2 separate regions of the Homo sapiens genome follow, and region 1 is linked to region 2. The links come from fine-mapping of genetic effects on gene expression. Tissue or cell type: testis. Region 2 holds a variant in brackets; the other region holds the start of a gene. All regions are shown on one strand. Distances are from middle to middle.

Region 1 (9,862 bases), 70 kb before region 2:
CTATGATGACCCCCGCTCCCACCTCCACGTCCCATGGCCACGGCCCCTCCCTTCCAAGCTCCTTCTGCCTGATGGGCAGCACCCCCTCCCGTCTGGAGTCTGCCGGGGCCCTTCCTGCTCTCCTTGTTAATTTATTTTCTGTCTTGGAGGGAAGCTGGGTGCACCTGCTCAGGTGGCCCCCTAGGGCCAGAAGACCTGTCAGTCACTTTCAAATACATGTTCTTTCCAGCTCTTCCTTGCCAAAGGTTCTAAAAACACTGTTGTCCGTCTCACCCAAAAAGCTAAGCTTCTGTCCAATCCTTAACGGTAGCTATAAATGAGAAGCATAAGCTTGGTTTCCTTCTAACATCCGGCAAGTTAGAAGATAAAACGTATTTCTTCACTTATTCATCACATATTTGCAGGGCACCCCTACACGGGACAGCAGAGGTCCCAGGCCGGTGCTGCACCCGGAGCCAGGCTCGGAGCTGGCCGCGCGCCCTCAGCTGAAACTCACCGGAGGCGCGGCCGCCCTGGGCTGAGAAGACGCCGTCGGCCCAGGTGGCATCAGAACCCACAGGAGGAAGACAGCCAGCCCAGAAGGAGCCATGGGGGGCCTCTGGGGATCGCAAGGGTCGACCCCATCCTCCCTGAAACAAGGCCGGAGGTTGAGGAGGTCTCCGCCCGGCCCCGCAGCTGACAACCGGTGGAGAAACCGCACCTGCCACGGGAGGGGCCGCGGGGTGGGCTCGAGCCACCATGGGGCTGGTACAAGCACCCTCTCCGCTCAGGACCTCGGCCCTCATCCCAGGGCACCAGGGCTCACAGGGGGATGGGCCCGGGTGGGGACGAGGGTGTGGAGGGGCAGGAAGCACGGCGGGTGGAGCGGAGCCGGGTGCGGGGGTCGCGGGGGACCGCGGGGACGGGGCCTTGTGATGCAGGAGACGGAGGGGGCTGGTGACGGAGGACGGGAGGCCGCAAGGATGGGGGACGCGACATCCTTTTCCCCTCCCACCGGCTCACCAGGGATGCGCCTCCGCGACTGCCCGCCCCAATCCCAGGGCGGAGGCCTCGCGCAAAACCCAGGCGCCGCGGCTCCGCGCTCCGGCTGAGGGTCCGCGCCGCCGCCCGCCCGCTCCTTCCCGCTCGGCCGCGGCCTCAGGGACGGATACTCCAGCGCGCGGTTCCAACCGAGGCCCGTGGCGGGTAAGGCCGGGAGGCTGGGGCGGGTACGGGGCCGGGAGCGAGGGGCGGCGCGGGGAGGGGATGCAGCTGTCGCCCGCACAGCCGTGTCTGGACGCGGCCCCGCAACTCGACCCCGTCCCGCCCCCAGCCAGCTGCTGAACTAGGCGGCCGGGGACGGCATTGAGCGCTGGGCGCGCGCGGGAGGGACTGTCCCTGGGGCACGGGTCTGCTGGGGCGGAGTCCGCACGGTGTCAGCAGCCGCTTGTCCTCCGCAGCATCCGCAAGGCCCGCACCCAGGCTTTGGCCCCAAAGGTGGGGACCAGGCCCAGGCACGGCCCGTCCCCGTTCCAGACCCTGATCTGAGCCAGCTCTTGGTCCCGGCTACCGCGTCCTCCAAACACAACGCCCCTCCCCCCATGCCGCCTCCCCCCGCCCCCCACATCCCAGCAACGCGTGCAGAGCTCCCTCCCCCAGGCTTGCTCCCCCGCCCGGGCCTGGACGCCCCCAGAGGCCTGAACGCTCCTGCCCCGCTTCTACACCCCCAATCCAGGTGCACAACCTTCAGGTGCAGAACCCTCCTGCCCCTCCTGCCCCACCTGCCACTTCCCAGCGCCTCCCCCAGGCCTAAGTCCCTGATGCTAGAGGTTAAACCGCGCCCCCCCAGGCCTCAGTGGGCCTCCAAGATGCTGGGGGCACCCTGATCCCACAAAAGATGGGGGTCCCTCTGCTCTCCAGCCTTGAGCCCTCCGCCTCTGGGCACCCGATCTCCATGGAAACTAAGGGCCCTTTCCCTCTCTTCCCGCAGGTTTAGCCCCATGAAGATGAACTGGGCACCCGCGAATGGCTGGGCTCTGCTACAGGAGGCAGCCTTCCTCTGCGTGCGGCCGCGGAGGGCTCCGCGGGGGCTCGAGAGGGGCCTCGAGGGTGTGTGTGAGGCCGGCGCTGTGCTATGGTGCCCCGGGCTCCTCCCTGCGCGTGGCTGCGGCCGGGGCGGCGGGCTCAGGCTGGAGAAGGGCCGCGGGACCCGGGGAACGCGGCCTGGAGGACGAGGAGGACTGGGTTCCCGGAGGCAACAGGACCGGCTCGGCATCTACAGCTACTGTACGTGGACTTCGGGCGCTGGACCCACGGGCGGCCTGTGCCTCTGTGTCGGGCTGGGTGGCGCCCTCAGTGCCCTGGGGCTGCTGCGGCCCTAGGCCTGGCTGGGCTCGGTGACCACATCTGGCCCCCGGGCCGCACCGTCCCCCAGGATCCTCCGGCCTGGGCTCCCCCTTCCTCCCTTGCCCACAGTCTTGGAGCCCCAGTGGGTGCAGGAGCTGCTGGCTGCCCCTGTGGACCCGCCATCCACCGTCCTGCCCATGCTGCCTCGCCATCCACCTGCCTGCCCACGCCGCCTCAGCCTCCCACCTCCCACCTAGAGGAGACCATGGGCCCTGCCCCACCTGCTCCAGGATGTTAGGGTCCCCTCAGCCAAAAAGGCAGTGGCCTGTGGCTCCTGTACCAACAGCCCAGCCACACTCCAGAGCCGCCCAAAGGGAGGTGCCAAGGCCAGGAACCCAAGCCACCCCAGCTCCCCATGCCTGCCCAGGGGCCGTGGTAACCCATGGACAGGGAGGTGACCTCAGGCTGGTTCTGCCACTGAGGCCCTGAGGAATCAGGCCCTCCCCAAAAGAAGTAATGAAATGGACCAAAGGACTTAAGAATTTGGGGGGAAGTAAGGGGAAAACGTTAGGTGCTAACCACCTGCCCAGAAGAGTGGATCTCACAGCCCAGGAACATTCCCAAGCAGGAAAACCATCCGTCCAGGAACCCTAACCCTAAAACTAAGCACAACCCCTACCCCTAACCCCTGACCCTAACGCTGACCCTTAACCATAACCCTTAACCCTAACCACTAACGCAAAACACTAACCCTTAACCCTAACCCCTAACACCTAACCCCCACCTCAAGCACTAAACCCTAAGCCTAAACCTTAACCCTAACTGCTAACACTAACCCATAACCCTAAGCCCTAGCCCCAACCCTAAACTTGACCCTGAACCCAAGCCTCCAACCCAACCCCGACACAAACCCCTAACCCTAACCCCTAATTCTAGCCCTAATCCCTAAATCCAACACCAACCCTTGACCGGACCCCTGACCCCTAACCCTAACCTCAACTCATAACCTCAACCCCTACTCCTACACCTAACCCCTACCCTAATGCTAGCCATAAACCTAACACCCAAACCCAAACTCGAACCTATGCCTACCCCTAAAACCCTAGCCCGAACCGTAACCACAAATCCTAACACACAACGCTACCCCTAAACCTACCACTACCCCACCCCAAACCCTGACACCGAACCCTGAAGCTAACCCTAACAACACTAAGCCTAACCTGCAACCCTTAACCCAACTGTAACTCCTAATGCTAACCCTAACCCTAACCCTAACAACACTAAGCCTAACCCCTAACCCTTAACCCAACTGTAACTCCTAATGCTAACCCTAACCCTTAACTCTAACCCCTTACCCTAAACTGTAACCCCTAACCCTAATCCCAACCCCAACACGTAACCCTAACCCCTATCCCCTACCCTAAAACCCTAACCCTTACAAACCTTAGCCAAATCCCAAACCCTAACCCCCACCCCTGACCCTAATCCCCTAGCCCCCAAACCCTAACCCCAATACCCTAACCCCAACACTAAAACCCTGACCCTAACCGTAAAACCCTACCCCTACCCCGACCCTAGCCCAACCCTAACCCTACCCCAATCCTTCCCCTACCCCTAACACTAACCCCAAACCCTAATTCTAACCCCACTCCTAACCCCAAAACTAACTTCTAACCCCTAAACCCTAACCCCAACCCCAACTCTAACCTTAATCCCTAGCTCTAATCTGTAGCCCTAACCCTAAACCCTAAGGTAACCTTTTATAGGTTAGGATTCGAGGCTTCGTATTTAGGACAGGCAGGTGTTCTGATGTCTCCCACTCACCTGCACGGTAAAGTTCTTCCCCTGGCTCTTCACAACCAGTCGCGATGCATCGCGGCCTCCCCTGGCCGGTGAAGGGCTGGGTTCTCCCGAAAGCCTCTGCTCCTCCTCCCTCCTCCCAGGGCCCTCCGGGCCTCCACGGTGGCCCCAGCGCGGCAGGGACCGTGCAGAAGGGACCGTGGGCTTGTGGCCGGCCTCGGCCACTGTGGGCATGGAGCTCACGGGAACGCGGCCTAGGGGCAGGCTACGCTCCTCTGCGCGCGCAGGAACAGCGGGCCCAGCGGGGGCTGCCGCAGATTTCACTCGCTGGGGCCCGTGCACTCCCGCGGCGGTGTGGTCCCGCAGAGCCGCAACCTCATGAGGCTGCCAGGGCCACAGCGCCTTGTGGAGTCGTCATCCGTCAGACACGCACACTTCACAGGAAGCTTCGGCGCTACACATGCGTACTGCTCGTTGGTGGGGAGGGCCTCCAGAACCAGGGCCGGTCCCCTCGGAAGCCAGCGCACATGCGCGGGGGCACCCGGCAGCGGGCCAATCGCAAGCCTGGACGGCCGCACGTGGCCCTGGCGGGCTTCCCGCCGCGTTTGTAGCCCTCGCGCCTTTACGCATGCGCACTAGTGCCACGCAGGCCTGCCGGAGAATTACCTCACATCTCCAGGCGCGCGCAGGAGTGCATTGCGCAGGCGCGCTGCCTGGAGTCCTGCCCCCAGCGGCGGTTGCTCCAATCACCACTGGAGGCTCCCTCCCGAGGCACCCTCGCTGGCGAGCTGAGAGGAAATGGCGGGGAGGTCCCTGACATCGAAGGCCGAGCCCACCGCAGGAGCCGTGGACAGGGCTGAGAAGGCCGGAGGTAGTGGTGGGAGGCAGGGAACTGTGCGTGAGGGTCTGACCTCGCCGAGGCGGGGCAGGGTTGGGGCGCGGGTGGCGGCTGCTTCTTCCTGTCAGTCCTGATGCTGCTGATTGAGACTTAGCGGGTTTCTTCAGAAAAATTTCGGCCAAGATGAGGGAGTGCTTGCCCGCACACCCCCCACTTTGTCTTAAAGCATTGAACTGTTATCATAGTTGCTCCAATTTTGGTTTAGGTAATTAGTCAAAAGACATCCCTTCCCGTTGTCCCACAGACTTTACATACACACCTCTTAAAACAAAAAGGATATTTTCCTGACGCTCCCAATCCCAAGGGAATTCCTAATTCCACCTTCCTCTCCCTAGAACCAGCAAGTGTCCAGATTTCCCAGTCGCACTAAACTGGTTCTTGACAGTGGGGCCCCCCACCCAGCATCCCGACGCCCCGGGGAGCCGGGGGAGGCCGACTCCACGCAGATCCCCCGTTTGTTTCTCCCTGACCCCGACCTGCCATAGTGGCTCCTACCTCACCCTGGGAAGGGAGGGGACAGGCAGCTGGTCAGAGTTGTACAGAAGTCCAGAAATTGCAGCCCAACAAAGAGAAAGGACACTGTCCTGGCCGTTTCCACTTCAGGACACTGTGTGCCTCTGGGTGTTCTGTGAGGATTTTCAAACTTACAGAAAAGTGGAGAGAATTGTACGGTGACGTCCCTCCTGCTGTCACTCAGCTTGTCATTCTGTCCTGAGATCATCTGTCCCCCTTGAGTTAAAACTCTGCAATTAACAAACGTCGGTGGCTGCCTCCAGCCCTACCTGCGTGAATGCCATGGCAGGTGCTCTGTCATGTTCTTACAAAATGAAGGTTTGAATACTGAAACAAGCTTAGCACAGAAAGCATCCCTACAGTGAGATGTGGCACAGTGAAAGCCCCAGCGAAGGACAAAGCAAGTAAACAGGACAGACGCAAACGTATCCCTTTCATTAAGCACCTGCTGGCCCGCCGGTGTGCTAGCCTTTCAGTATCATGGCTCCATGTTCCTCACATAACCTAGTATATTTAGGTAAGTTTTAACCAATGTCGCTTGTGCCTTAGTTCAAACTGCTACAACAGAAATGCCTTATTTCTCACAGTTTTCGAGGCTAGAAGTTCAAGATCAAGGTGCAATTCAGCGTCTGGTGGGGGCCTGCTTCCTGGCTATAGACTTCTGTCTTCTCATTGTGTCCTCATGTTGGGGAAGTTGCTGCAGACCTCTCTGGTCTTATAAGGGCACTAATCCCATTGCTGAGGGCCCTACTCTCATGACCTAATCACCTCCCAAAGGCCCCACCTCCTAATGCAGTCACACTAGGGGGTTAGGATTTCAACATACGAACTATGGATGGGGGCACAAACATTCTATAGTGACCAGCTACAGAAGAAATTTAAAGGACAAGATTCCAGTTTTAGTCTATCTGTTTTAAAAAGGAAGCAGGGATGTTATCTAGGGTCAGTGACACTAGATACATTTTAGTAAAAAGTCTATTAGTCTTCACCTAACTGGCTGCAGTTATTACTAGAAAGGGGAATGACTGGGGAAAGGGAATGTTGGTGTTTCAATTTTTTCTTCATACTTTTTCACACATGCCAATTACTTGAATAATTTAAAACTTAATGCAAAAATTTATGAGCAGTAATTTGTGTAAGATTTCAGGTGGGACCAAAATGAGGGGACTCCATAAACTCAAAAATAAGCATTTCACAAAATTTTATGCTTGATTTTTTTTTTTTTTTGAGACGAGATTGTGCTTTGTTGCCCAGGCTGGAGTGCAGTGGTACAATCACTGCTCACTGCAGCCTTGACCTCCTGGCCTCAAGAGATTCTCCCACCTCAGCCTCTTGAGTAGCTGGAATCACAGGTACATGTCACCATGCCCAGATAATTTTTTTAAATTTTTTATTTGTAGAGAGAGGGTCTTGCTGCATTGCTCAGGCTGCTCTTGAACTCCTATGCTTGAGCAGTCCTCCTGCCTCAGTCTCCCAAAAGTGCTGGGATTATGGATGTGAACCACTGAGCCTGGCCTTATGCATGTATGCATGATTTTTAATGGCTGTAAATGATTTCATCCTGTGTATGTGCTATAATTTATTTAACAAATCCCCTAAGGCATATTTAGGCTTCTTCGAGTTTTTCACTATTATAAACAATACAGTGATGAACACCTTGCCCATTAGCCATATCCAGAATTACTTAGGACATAGTCTTAGAAAATAAGATGCACCCAAACTTTTGATATTTACTATCAGAAAGTTTGTAAGGAGACACCTTAATTTTGCATATCTGGTTGACAAAGATAAACACGTTTGGAAACATAGGTGATTGGTAAAAATGAAAAACTGGGCATCTTGTATACATCAGTGTAAGGTAATTTGGTATTGTCAATCAAAACTGTTACAAACTTTGGTCAGGTGCCTCTGAGCCTTCTCAACCGTGCCTCGGCCTTGGCCTTGGCCTGTGATATGGTTTGGATCTGTGTCCTCACCCAAATATGTTGAATTGTAATCCCCAATGTTGGAGTTGGGGCCTGGTGGGAGGTGGTTGGATCACAGGAGACCAATTTTATTTAGATAGTGACTACCTATCTTTTAACTGGATCTCTGAGCTCTGGGAAGAGGCCACACTGAATCCTGGGTCTGCAAAAAGGGAGAATTATTATGAGGCTCGACCACATGGATGCTTTTACAGTGTACTTAAAAAACATTAAAAAAATATTTCTAAGTGTCTAAAATATACTCTTCCTTAAAAATGCAGGAGTAGCTTCTGTTGCAATAATTAATAAACAAAAAAATCAGGTAACACAATACAAAAGCAAACAGTTTAGGAGCTGACATGAACTTGTGTGTTTACACTCTTGGGGATACACAAGGAAAAACAATTTTCTCCACAAAAGGGAGTCTGGTGCCTTCTCCATTTTCTTTAAGGAACCTCAGGCTATTATAAACTATTTTAGGTCCCTCATGCAGCAGAGCGTTCAAGGGAAAGGAGAGACAGCAGAACTATATGAAGAAAATAGCATTCAGTCAACTGAAAAGAAAAAAAACTTTTGCCCAAAAAACACAAGGTCCTAGGAGAGAGAAAAAAGAAAAATCATGAAGCCCTTTTAAATACACACACACACACACACACACACACACACACACACACACACACACACACACACATTGGATGTTAGCTTTTAATTAAGATGACTTTTAACCATTTGAGTTTCTTTTTAAAAAATTTTTAAGATCTCATCAACATATTTCAGCTAGGACAAATATCTGCTATTTCAGAAGTACCAAGTATCAAACCAGAAAGGTCTTGATTTAGGAACCAAACCCAGGCTGTCATGGAAAAAAGAAGACAGAACCTTAGCTATGGAACTGCAGTTGGGGTGACAATCCTTTCTCTTTCAGTTTGGCCTGGCTAGCAAAAAGGTGGCCTTGTTATGTAAATAAATCCCCTTAAGTAGTCAAAATCAAAAATCTTCCCCCCCTTTTTTCCTTTTGCTGGCTGTTTTTTCTTCCCCCACCACCCCTTTTCTGGTGGGAATTTAGCCACTTCAGAGGCCTTGTTCCACATAATTTGGAACTTTCCTTTGGATTTGATCAAGTCAGAATTGGCCAAACCCAATAGGAAAAGGACCAAAACAACAAAAACAGAAAGAAACAACAACAAAAAAAAATACCAGTTAAGCAAAACAAACAAATGATCACACAACTTGTATGGTTACTGGACACTCTAATGATAAGGAAAAATTAAGACCAGCTGGTTGTTAATTTTACCTTTAGCCAAGACAAACCCCAATTCAGTTACTTACCTAGGGATGGGTCTTAGGCTGAAGACTGCTCTCTATCATCTTAGAAGCAGGAAAAAAACCCTCAAACTTGTCTTCCCTGTTGGGAGCGAGTTCAAACTCCAGAAAGGAACTTTCATGGAAGCAGGAAAACTTGCCTTCCTTGTTGGAAGCAAGAAAAACTCCAAAAAAAGAGTAGAGTTGTTTAGAAAAATAAACTTTGGATCTGGAGCGAATTTTGGGAAATGAGGGATTCCCTGGATGGGGGACTTCCAGAACTCAGCAACTTGTCATATTAGTTTGAACCATAAAGATAGCTCAAGCTGCTAGCAAGCACTGATAGGATATTTGTCAAAGGTCAGGGGCACCTCTACTCAGAATCCCTTTGTGGTTGCCAAAATGTGAAACCCAAAAATCTGAGACAGGTCTCAGTCAATTTAGGAAGTTTATTTTACCAAAGTTAGGGATGCATGCCTGTGACACGGCCTCAGGAGGTCCTGATGACCTGTGCCCAGGGTGGCAGGGTGGTCAGAGCACAGGTTGGTTTTATGCTTTTTAGGGAGACATGAGACACAAATCAACATATGTAAGATGAACATTGGTTCGATCTGGAAAGGTGGGACAACTCAAAGCAATGATGAGACAACTTGAAGCAGGGGGGTTTGCTTCAAGGTCATAAGTAGATAAAAGACAAATGGTTGTATTCTTTTGAGTTTCCGATTAGCCTTTCCAAAGGAGGCAATCAGATATGCATTTATCTGAGTAAGAAGAAGGATGACTGAATTATTTTCAGATATTTATTTTACAAAATCAGATATGCATTTATCTCAGTGAGCAGAGGGATGACTTTGAATTGATTTATTTTCAAAGATTTATTTATAAAAAGATTTATTTTCCTTTCACAATGTTAATGCCATAAATAGTAATTTCTTAGATCTACTAATTTTAGTGTTAAAAATAGGTTCCAATAGTGATTATAAAAAATTAACATGAAATATTTTATGGGGAAATTTCAGGGTTAGTATTGGTTGTATGTAGGAAAGCTTGTTTGTATTTA
Region 2 (10,884 bases):
TGTTCCTAGAAGTGAAATTGATAGAAAGCCTACTGCATTCCTACTTAATTTATACAAGCAGAAAACTTCTAGGTCGAATGGATAAAAGACTAATTTGAATTATAAAAATGTAGAATCATGGCCTCTTAATCAATTTCCAGACTTGAGCCAGTTTACAGATCCAGAACCACTTGAATGAAGGGGAAGCCAAGTTCCCATTAGGAAGGACCCTACTACATTACCAGCAATTTATGCAGTGAATCTTTCTCCCATCCTTCCCCAAGGAGACCTCTGGCCTTTTACCAGGATAACTGTGCGCTGGGGAAAGGGAAATGATCAGACATTTCAGGGACTACTGGACACTGGCTCTGAGCTGACATGGATTCCAGGGGACCCAAAACGTCATTGTGGTCCTCCAGTTAAAGTAGGGGCTTATGGGAGTCAGGTAATTAATGAAGTTTTAGCTCAGGTCTGACTTACAGTGGGTCCAGTGGGTCTCTGGACTCATCCTGTGGTCATTTCCCTAGTGCGAGAATGCATAATTGGCATAGACATACTTAGCAGCTGGCAGAACCTTCACATTGGCTCCCTGACTGGTAGGGTGACGGCTACTGTGGTGAGAAAGGCCAAATGAAAGCCATTAGAGCTGCCTCTACCTAGAAAAATAGTAAATCAAAAACAATATTGTGTCCCTGGAGGGATTGCAGAGATTAGTGCCACCACCAAGGACTTGAAAGACTCAGGGGTGGTGATTCCCACCACATTCCCATTCAACTCTCCCATTTGGCCTGTGCAGAAGACAGATGGATCTTGGAGAATGACAGTGGATTACCATAAGCTTAACCAAGTGATGATTCCAATTGCAGCTGCTGTACCAGATGTGGTTTCATTATTTGAGCAAATTAACACATCTCCTGGTACTTTGTGTGCAACCATTGACTTGGCAAATGCCTTTTTCTCCATTCCTGTCCATAAGGCCCACCAGAAACAATTTGCCTTCAGCTGTCAAGGCCAGCAATATACCTTTACTGTCCTACCTCAGGGGTATATGAATTATCTGGCTTTGTGTCATAATCTTATTCAGAGAGAACTTGATCGCTTTTTGCCTCCAAAAGATATCACACTGGTCCATTACATTGATGACATTATGCAGATTGGATCCAGTGAGCAAGAAGTAGCAAACACTGGACTTATTGGTGAAACATTTGCATGCCAGAGGATGGGAAGTGTATCTGCCTAAAATTCAGGGACCTTCTACCTCAGTAAAATTTCTAAGGGTCCAGTGGTATGGGGCCTGTAGAGATATTCCTCCTAAGGTGAAGGATAAGTTGCTGCATTTGGCCCCTCCTACAACCAAGAAAGAGGCACAATGCCTAGTGGGCCTATTTGGATTTTGGAGGCAACACATTCCTCATTTGGGTGTGTTACTCCAGCCCATTTATTGAGTGACCTGAAAAGCTGTCAGTTTTGAGTGGAGTCCAGAACAAGAGAAGGCTCTGCAGCAGGTCCAGGCTGCTGTGCAAGCTGCTCTGCCACTTGGGCCATATGGCCCAGCATATCCAATGGTGCTTGAGGTGTCAGTGGCAGATAGGCATGCTGTTTGGAGCCTTTGGCAGGCTCCCATAGGTGAATCACAGTGGAGGCCTCTAGGATTTTGGAGCGAGGCCCTGCCATCTTCTGCAGATAACTACTCTCCTTTTGAGAGACAGCTCTTAGCCTGTTACTGGGCTTTGGTGGAAACTGAACGTTTGACTGTAGGTCACCAAGTCACCACGCGACCTGAACTGCCTATCATAAACTGGGTGCTTTCTGACCCATCTAGCCATTAAGTGGGTTGTGCACAGCAGCATTCCGTCATCAAATGGAAGTGGCACTAGGGAAATGACCACAGGATGGAAGTGGTATATATGTGATCAGGTTCCAGCAGGTCCTGAAGGCACAAGTAAGTTACATGAGGAAGTGGTTCAAATGCCCATGGTCTCCACTCCTGCCACCCTTCCTTCTCTCCCCGAGCCTGCCCCAACGGCCTCATGGGAAGTTCCCTATAATTAGTTGGGCCTGGTTCGTGGATGGTTCCGCATGATATGCAGGCACCACCCAAAAGTGGAGAGCTGCAGCACTACAGCCCCTTTCTAGGACATCCCTGAAGGACAGTAGGGAAGGAAAATCTTCCCAGTGGGCAGAACTAAGAGCAGTGAACCTGGTTGTGCACTTTGCATGGAAGGAGAAATGGCCAGATGTGTGATTATATACTGATTCATGGGCTGTAGTTAATGGTTTGGTTGGATGGTCAGGGACTTGAAAGAAGAATGATCGGAAATTGTGACAAAGAAATGTGGGGAAGAGGTATGTGGATGGACCTCTCTGAGTGGTCAAAAACTGTGAAGATATTTGTATCCCATGTGAGTGCTCACCAATGGGTGACCTCAGCAGAGGAGGATTTTAATAATCAAGTGGATAGGATGACCACTTCTGTGGACACCATTCAGCCTCTTTCCCAAGCACCTCTGTCATTGCCCAATGGACCCGTGAACAAAGTGGCCATGGTGGCAGGGATGGAGGTTATGAATGGGCTCAGCAATATGAGCTTCCACTCACCAAGGCTGATCTGGCTATGGCCACTGCTGAGTGCCCAATTTGCCAGCAGCAGAGACCAACACTGATTCCTCGATATGGCACCATTTCTCAGGGTGGTCAGCCAGCTACCTGGTGGCAGGTTGATTATATTGAACCTCTTCCATCATGGAAAGGGCAGAGATTTGTCCTCACTGGAATAGATACTTATTCTGGATATCGGTTTGCCTATCCTGCACACGATACTTCTACCAAGACTACCATCTGTGGACTCATGGAATGCCTTATCCACCATCATGGTGTTCCACACAGTATTGCCTCTGACCAAGGTACTCACTTTACGGCCATAGAAGTGCAGCAGTGGGCTCATGTTCGTGGAATTCACTGGTCTTACCACGTTGCCCATCATCCTGAAGCAGCTGGATTGATAGAACGGTGGAATGGCCTTTCAAAGTCACAATTGCTGTGGGTGGCAAGCCACCCAGGTGCCAAGGCAAGAGACCGAGGACACGAGCTGTTCCAGTATAATAAAATATAAAATAAGAATAGTTATACCAGAGATAGATCTTAGATATGATTATATATGAATATCATTAATCATTAGTAGCAATTACTCTTTATTCCAATATTATAATAATCCTCACTCTATAATCATAAACTAGGAAAAACCAGGCCATACAGAGATAGGAGCTGAAGGGACATAGTGAGAAGTGACCAGAAGACAAGAGTGTGAGCCTTCTGTTATGCCCAGACAGGGCCACCAGAGGGCTCCTTGGTCTAGCGGTAACGCCAGCATCTGGGAAGATGCCCATTGCCAAGCAGACCGTGGTCTAGCAGTAGCGTTAGTGTCAAGGAAAAACACCCGCTACTTAGCAGACCGGGAAAGAGAGTCTCCCTTTCCCCAGGGGAGTTTAGAGAAGACTCTACTCCTCCACCTCTTGTGGAAGGCCTGACATTAGTCAGGCCCACCCACAGTTATTCGGAGGCCTAACCGTCTCCCTGTGATGCTGTGCTTCAGTGGTCACACTCCTAGTCTGCCTTCATGTTCCATCTTGTACACCTGGTTCTGCCGTTTAGTTAGCAGTAGCAAATTAGTGAAAGTACTAAAAGTCTCTGATAAGCAGAAATAATGGTGTAAGCTGTTTCTCTTTCTCCTCTCTCTCTCTGCCTCGGCTGCCAGGCAGGAAAGGGCCCCCTGTCCAGGGGACATGTGATCCATGTGGCCTTCCCTATCATTGGAGATGGCCCACACTCCTTATCCTGCCCCTTTGTCTTGTATCCAATAAATATCAGTGCAGCCTGGCATTCGGGGCCACTACCAGTCTCCGCATCTTGGTGGTAGTGGTCCCCCGGGCCCAGCTGTCTTTTCTTTTATCTCTTTGTCTTGTGTTTTTATTTCTACGCTCTCTCGTCTCCACACAGAAGGAGAAAATGCACCAACCCTGTGGGGCTGGACCCTACAATTACCATGTCAATTAGATGACAATACTTTGCAGGGCTGGGGCAAAGTACTCTAGAAGGCTGTGTATGCACTGGATCAGCATCTGATATATGGTACTGTTTCTCCCATAGCCAGGATTCACGGGTCCAGGAATCAAGGGGTGGAAGTGGAAGTGGCACCACTCACCATCACCCCTAATGATCCAGTAGCAAAATTTTTGCTTCCTGTTCCTGCAACATTACGTTCTGCTAGCCTAGAGATCTTAGTTCCAGAGGGAGTAACACTGCCACCAGGAGACACAACAACAATTCCATTAAACTGAAAGTTAAGATTGTCACCTGGACACTTCGGGCTCCTCCTACCTTTAAGTAAACAGGCTAAGAAGGGAGTTACAGTGTTGGCTAGGTTGATTGACCCAGACTATCAAGATGAAATCAGTCTACTACTCCATAACAGAGGTAAGGAGGAGCATGCATGGAATACAGGAGATCCATTAGGATGTCACTTAGTATTACCATGCCCTGTGATTAAGGTCAATGAGAAACTACAACAGCCCAATCCAGGGAGGACTACAAATGGTCCAGACCCTTCAGGAATGAAGGTTTAAGTCACTCCACCAGGAAAAAAACCTTGATCTGATGAGGTGCTTGCAGAAGGCAAAGGGAATACACAGTGGGTGATAGAAGAAGGTAGTCATCAATACCAGCTACGACCACATGACCAGCTGCAGAAATAAGGACTGTAAAAAGTATTAACCCTAGGTGAGTCTGTGTGGGTGTTGCCAAAGGAGATTTGAGTCAGTGGGCTGGGGAAGGCAGACCCACCCTTAATCAGGTGGACACCATCTAATGAGCTTCCAGCAAATATAAAGCAGGCAGAAAAACATGAAAAGGCAAGACTGGCTTAGCCTTCCAGCCTACATTTTTCTCCCATGCTGGATGCTTCCTGCCCTCAAACATCAGACTCCAAGTTCTTCAGTTTTGGGACTTGGACTGGCTCTCCTTGGTCCTCAGCTTGCAGACAGCCTATTGTGGGGACCTCGTGATCATGTTAGTTAATATTTAATAAACTCCCATTTACATATATACATATATATATACATATATAATATTTATCCTATTAGTTCTGTCCCTCTAGAGAACCCTGACTAATACAGATTTTGGTACCAGGAGTGGGCTGTTGTGTTGCTGAAAAGATACCCAAAAATGTGGAATTGACTTTGGAATTGGGTAACAGGCAGAGGTTGGAACAATTTGGAGGGCTCAGAAGAAGATAAGAAAATGTGGGAAAGTTTGGAACTTCCTAGAGACTTTGCCCAAAATGCTGATAGCAATATGGACAATAAAGTCCAGGCTGAGGTGATCTCAAATGGAAATTAGGAACTTGTTGGGAAGTGGAGCAAAGGTGACTCTTGTTATGTTTAACAAAGGGACTGGCAGCATTTTTCCCCTGCCCTACAGACCTGTGGAACTTTGAACCAGAGAGAGATGATTTAGGGTATCAGGTGGAAGAAATTTCTAAGCAGCAA[A/G]CATTCAAGAGGTGATTCAGGTGCTGTTAAAGGCATCCCATTTTATAAGGAAAGCACAGCATAGAAGTTTGGAAAATTTGCAGCCTGACAATGCAATAGAAAAAGAAAATCCCATTTTCTGGGGAGAAATTTAAGCCAGCTGCAGAAATTTGCATAAGTAACGAGGAGCAGAATGTTAACTCACAAGACAATGGGGAAAAGACATGCCTCTCCAGGGCATGTCAGAGGTCTTCACAGCAGCCCTTCTCATCACAGGCCTGGAGGTGTACAAGATAAAAATGGCTTCCTGGGCTAGGCCCAGGGTCCCCATGCTGTGTACAGCCAAGGGACTTGGTGTCCTGTGTCCCAGCTGCCCCTAGCCATGACTAAAAGGGACCAAGGTAAAGCTCCAGCCATGGCTTCAGAGGGTGCAAGCCCTAAGCCTTAGCACCTTCCACATGGTGTTGAGCCTGTGGGTACACAGAAGTCAAGAATTGAGGTTTGGGCACCTCCGCCTAGATTTCAGAAGATGTATGGAAATGCCTGGATGCCCAGGCAAAAGTTTGTTGCAAGCGCAAGGCCTTCATAGAGAACCTCTGCCACAGCAGTGCAGAAGGGAAATGTGGGGTCAGAGCCCCCAAACAGAATCCCTAATGGGGTAACCACCTATTGGAGCTGTGAGAAGAGGGCCACCATCCTCCAGACCCCAGGATGATAGATCCACTGATAGCTTGCACTGTGTGCCTGGAAAAGCCACAGACACTCAACACCAGCCCATAAAAACAGCCGGGAGGGAGGCTGTATCCTGCAAAGCCAAGGGGCGGAGCTGCCCAAGACCATGGGAACCCACTTCTTGCATCAGTGTGACCTGGATGCGAGATGTGGAGTCAAAGGAAATAATTTTGGAACTTTAAGATTTAACTGCCCTGATGGATTTTGGACTTGCATGGGGCCTGTAGCCCCTTTGTTTTGGCCAATTCCTCCCATTTGGAATGGCTGTTTTTGCCCAATGCCTGTACCCACATTGTATCTAGGAAGTAACTAACTTGCTTTTGATTTTACAGGGTTGTAAGCAGAAGGGAGTTTTCTTGTCTCAGATGAGACATTGGACTGTGGACTTTTGAGTTAATGCTGAAATGAGTTAAGGCTTTGGGGGACTGTTGGGAAGGCATGATTGATTATGAAATGTGAGAACATGAGATTTGGGAGGGGCCAGGAGTGGAATGATATGGTTTGCCTGTGCCCCCACCCAAATCTCAACTTGAATTATATCTCCCAGAATTCCCATGTTTTGTGGGAGGGACCCAGTGGGAGGTAATTGAATCATAGGGGCTGGTCTTTCCTGTGCTATTCTCATGGTAGTGAAAAAGTCTCACAAGATCTGATGGGTTTATCACGGGTTTCTGCTTTTGCTCCCTCCTCATTCTCTCTTGCCACTGCCATGTAAGAAGTGCCTTTCGCCCTCCACCATGATTCTGAGACCTTCCCCAGCCACGTGGAACTGTAAGTCCAGTTAAACCTCTTTCTTTTGTAAATTGCCTAGTCTCAGGTATGTCTTTATCAGCAGCATGAAAATGGACTAATACACTTCCCCTCTTTGTCTTGCTCACTCACTCACTCACTTCCCCTCTTGCCTTGCCATGTGATCCCTGCACGCCAGCTCCACTTCACCCTCCACCATGCATGAAAACAGCCTGTGCCATCATCGGATGCAAATGCTGGCACCATGATTCCTGTACAGCCTGCAGAACCATGAGCCAAATAAACCTCTTTTCTTTACAAATTACCCAGCCCCAGCTATTCCTTTATAGCAACACTAAATGGACTAAGACAATTGAGATAGAAACTTTAAGCACCAGCCAGCAGATAGGGGTTTTAAGAGTTTTGTTTCCCATTGAACCTACCAAATGCCCTGAAAACAATGTCAAGTATTGCCTCATTACATCTGCCTCTGCTGCAAGTTGTGATGTCATAATAGAATCATCCAGAAATCCTTTCATTGTTTTTCTTATGGAAGACTTGTGGACCCAAGGTGGCATTTAATCATAACTCTCTTGTCTAACTTGGAAACAAGAATTTACTCTCCTTCTCTTTTTTGTTCTTTCTTTCTAAAAAAAAAAAAAAGTGGGGGGCAGTAAGCATGATGTCTGAAGAAATAAATACGCCCTGGAGATTTGGAGGTATTATGTATTACCTCCCACATTCTAGATGCCCACTCTTTCCCTGGGAAGAAACACAGAGACCCTGATAAGCCCCTGATTTAAGAATAACAGACTAATCTCCAAGAAGGAAAAACTGAAATGAGGTTTGTCAGGGCGTTTTGTGCCCTCACAGGGTGAGGATATGTAGTAATGTAGTTTCTTGGAAACTAATCTTTATGAGAAATATTTTCCTGAACTTCTTTAGCTTCATCAGTTTCCTTTCTTTTTATTAGTAAATATAGCTAAAACTTGCTTTTAAAACATATATGATATTCTCATAAAATTTTATCTTTCAACCTAATCTAAGCAGTTCTCTAGCTATACAAATTTAACTTTCTTTCTGTATATGCAGAGAGACATGGAATCATGATTGGAGCGATGTCCACCAGATGTCAAAATAGAGTTCTGGATTCTTGTTTTGTATCAACTTTAATGAGATATAATTTCCATATAATAAAATGTACATATTTGTGTATAATTTGATAAGTTCTCAAAAGCTTATACACCCATGTAAACACCTCCACATCATGATACAGAACGTTTCAATTACCCTAACAAGCTCTTCTCTGCCCTTTTGATACAAATCCTTCATCTCAGCCCCAAGCAATCACTATTCTCTCACTTTACATTAGTTCTCTTATTGTGCAGTTTTATATAAATGGAATTATACAATATGAACTTATTTTGTATCTATCTTCTTTTGCTAATCTAAACACTTTTCAGATTCATCCATGTTGGTGCATGGATGAATGCATGCTAAGTCCTATTCCATTATATAGATGTATCACATTCATATAATTATACTCCATTATATAGATTGCTAAATCCTATTCCATTATATAGATATATCACAATTGTTTTGTCCATCATCTATTGATGGATATTTGTCTTAATTTTAGCTTTAGATTAATTTGGATAAAGTTGGGGTAAGCATAAATACATAGGCCTTTGTGTTGATATATGTTTTTCAAGCTCTTATATAAATCCCTAGGAGTATACGTTCAACTTTCTAAAAAAAGCCATTTTTTCCCCAAAGTAGTTTTGCCATTTTACATTTCCACCAGAAATTTACGGTTGTTGCAGTTGTTCTACATTGTTTCCAACACTTGAAATTGTCAGTTTCTTTAATGTTAGTGGGTCTCTAATGGTATCCCATTTTGCTTATAATTTCTAGTTCCTTGATGACTAATGACGTTGAACATCTTTTCACATGCTGATTGGCTATGCATATAAGTTCTTTTATGTAGGGTCTGTTTGTATCAGTTAACCATTTTAAAAAACAATTAGGTTGATTGTCTCCCTATTATTGAATTTTTAGAATTATTTATATAATATGGAAATACAACTTTTGTCTAATATATATGTTATGAATATTTTCTCCAGGTTTGTGGTTTGCCTTTTCATTTTCTTATCTATGTCTTTCAAAAAGCAGAGGTTTCTAATTTTTATAAAGCCTACTTTGTAAATTATTTTCTTTGGTGGTTTGTGCTTTTTGTGTGTGTACTACCTACAAAATTTTTGTATACCCAAAAGTTGCATATTTTTTCTAGTAGCTTTTAGTTTAGCTTTACTGTTTTGGTATATGATCTGTTTAATGTTCATATATGGTTTGAGGGAGGGATTATGGTTCATTCTTTTCTATATACATAACCAGTTATTTCTTTTCTATATATAAGTAACCAGTTGTTTCAACACCATTTTTGAAAAGATTATCTTTTGGCTGGGCATGGAGGCTCATGCCTGTAAACCCAGCACTTTGGGAGGCCGAGGTGGGCAGATCACGTGAGGTCAGGAGTTCAAGACCAGCATGGCCAACATGTGAAACCCTGTCTCTACTAAAAATACAAAAATTAGCTGGGCATGGTGATACATACCTGTAATCCTAGCTACTCTGGAGGCTGAGGCATAAGAATTGCTTGAACCTGGGAGACAGAGGTTGCCGTGAGCCGAGATCACACCACTGTACTTCAGCCTAGGTGACAGAGCAAGACTCCATTAAAAAAAAAAAAAAAGACTATCTTTTCCCTGATTAGATTAAACTGTATTGATCCTTCGTTAAAGATCAATTGACCATTTAGGTATAGGTTTATTCATTTCTGAATATTTATCCTTACATATTTATCCTTATATCAATAGCAGACTGTCTTTAAATAATAGCTTTAAAGTAAATGTTCAAATCAAGTCATTTTATTTCCCTAATTATGTTCTTTCTTGTTCTTCAAAATTGTGTAAAATACTATATGACATTTGAATAACCATATAAAATTTAAAATCAAATGTCAATTTCTAGGTACTAGTTCAATTTTGGAAGAACTGAAATATTATCAATATTGACTCTGCAATCATAGCGTGTATCTCCACTTATTTTTATCTCCCTTGAGTTTTAGCAACAATGCTGTGATCATAGTACTTAAGTCTTAAACACATTTTGCTAAATTTATCCTTATTTCATGCCTTTGATGCAATTGCAAATGGTGTTTATTTGATTGCAATTTCCAATCCTTGTTATTAGTACATAAAACACTATTTATTTTTGTATGTTTTACTTTATATGACCTTGATAAACTCACTTATTAATTCAAGTAGCACTTTTAACATACATGTGATTATGTTACATTACATGGCATAGTTAACCTTAAGACAGTGAGATTTTCCTGGTAAGCCTGACCTAAGCACACAAGCTCTTCAAAAAAGAGAGGTTTTTTTTCTAGTTTCAAAAGGCAATGTAGAATAGAAGCAAACTGGTTTCACTCTCTCCCACAGAAAACCAAAAACAAAGATTATCACCAGAAATATCCCAGAACTCAAATAAAAAGATGAGACCACTTCCAGGCCCACAGAGAAGTGAAAACACTCTGAGTAGTTGGTAAGAGAACTAGACACCCACATTTGCAATGCCCCCTCCCCCATTCTGCCTGGCACCACATGTGTTGAAAAATTTCCCCAACTCATTGTTTCTACACTGAGAAAAGCAAAATGGAGGAGACAAACAGCTTCCCCACCATTTTGGGTTCCCTGGCAGGAGAACCGTCCCTACCTTAGCCCATGGGAAGCATCAAGAAGTATCCCTGAAGACAGGCAGAGACAAAGTGGGGAGGTGGGACTACCACCTCCAGCCCTGGAAACTCTGCTCTGAAACTCAGCCACAGAAGATGCAAATTACAGTGGATGTTCAGCAGCAC

What was found. PIP is the estimated chance that this variant, and not a neighbour inherited with it, causes the effect.
Region 1: it holds the start of SYCE1, and the variant in region 2 is fine-mapped to the expression of SYCE1 in testis (GTEx, PIP above 0.99).

What each region holds. Positions count from the first base shown.
Region 1 is chr10:133,560,591-133,570,452 of GRCh38, reverse strand. SYCE1 (synaptonemal complex central element protein 1) reads left to right here and starts at 4,870. Exons shown (of 13, transcript NM_001143764.3): 1 at 4,870-4,996. The coding sequence starts at 4,924. It also overlaps the pseudogene SPRNP1.
Region 2 is chr10:133,490,012-133,500,895 of GRCh38, reverse strand. LOC105378575 (a long non-coding RNA gene) reads left to right here. Exons shown (of 5, transcript XR_946512.3): 5 at 8,055-9,472. Among named protein-coding and RNA genes, the nearest start is that of CYP2E1, 32 kb to the left of the region's middle. RefSeq lists a silencer at 3,294-3,373 and an enhancer at 10,399-10,448. The variant A/G (reference allele first, on the strand shown) is at 5,523.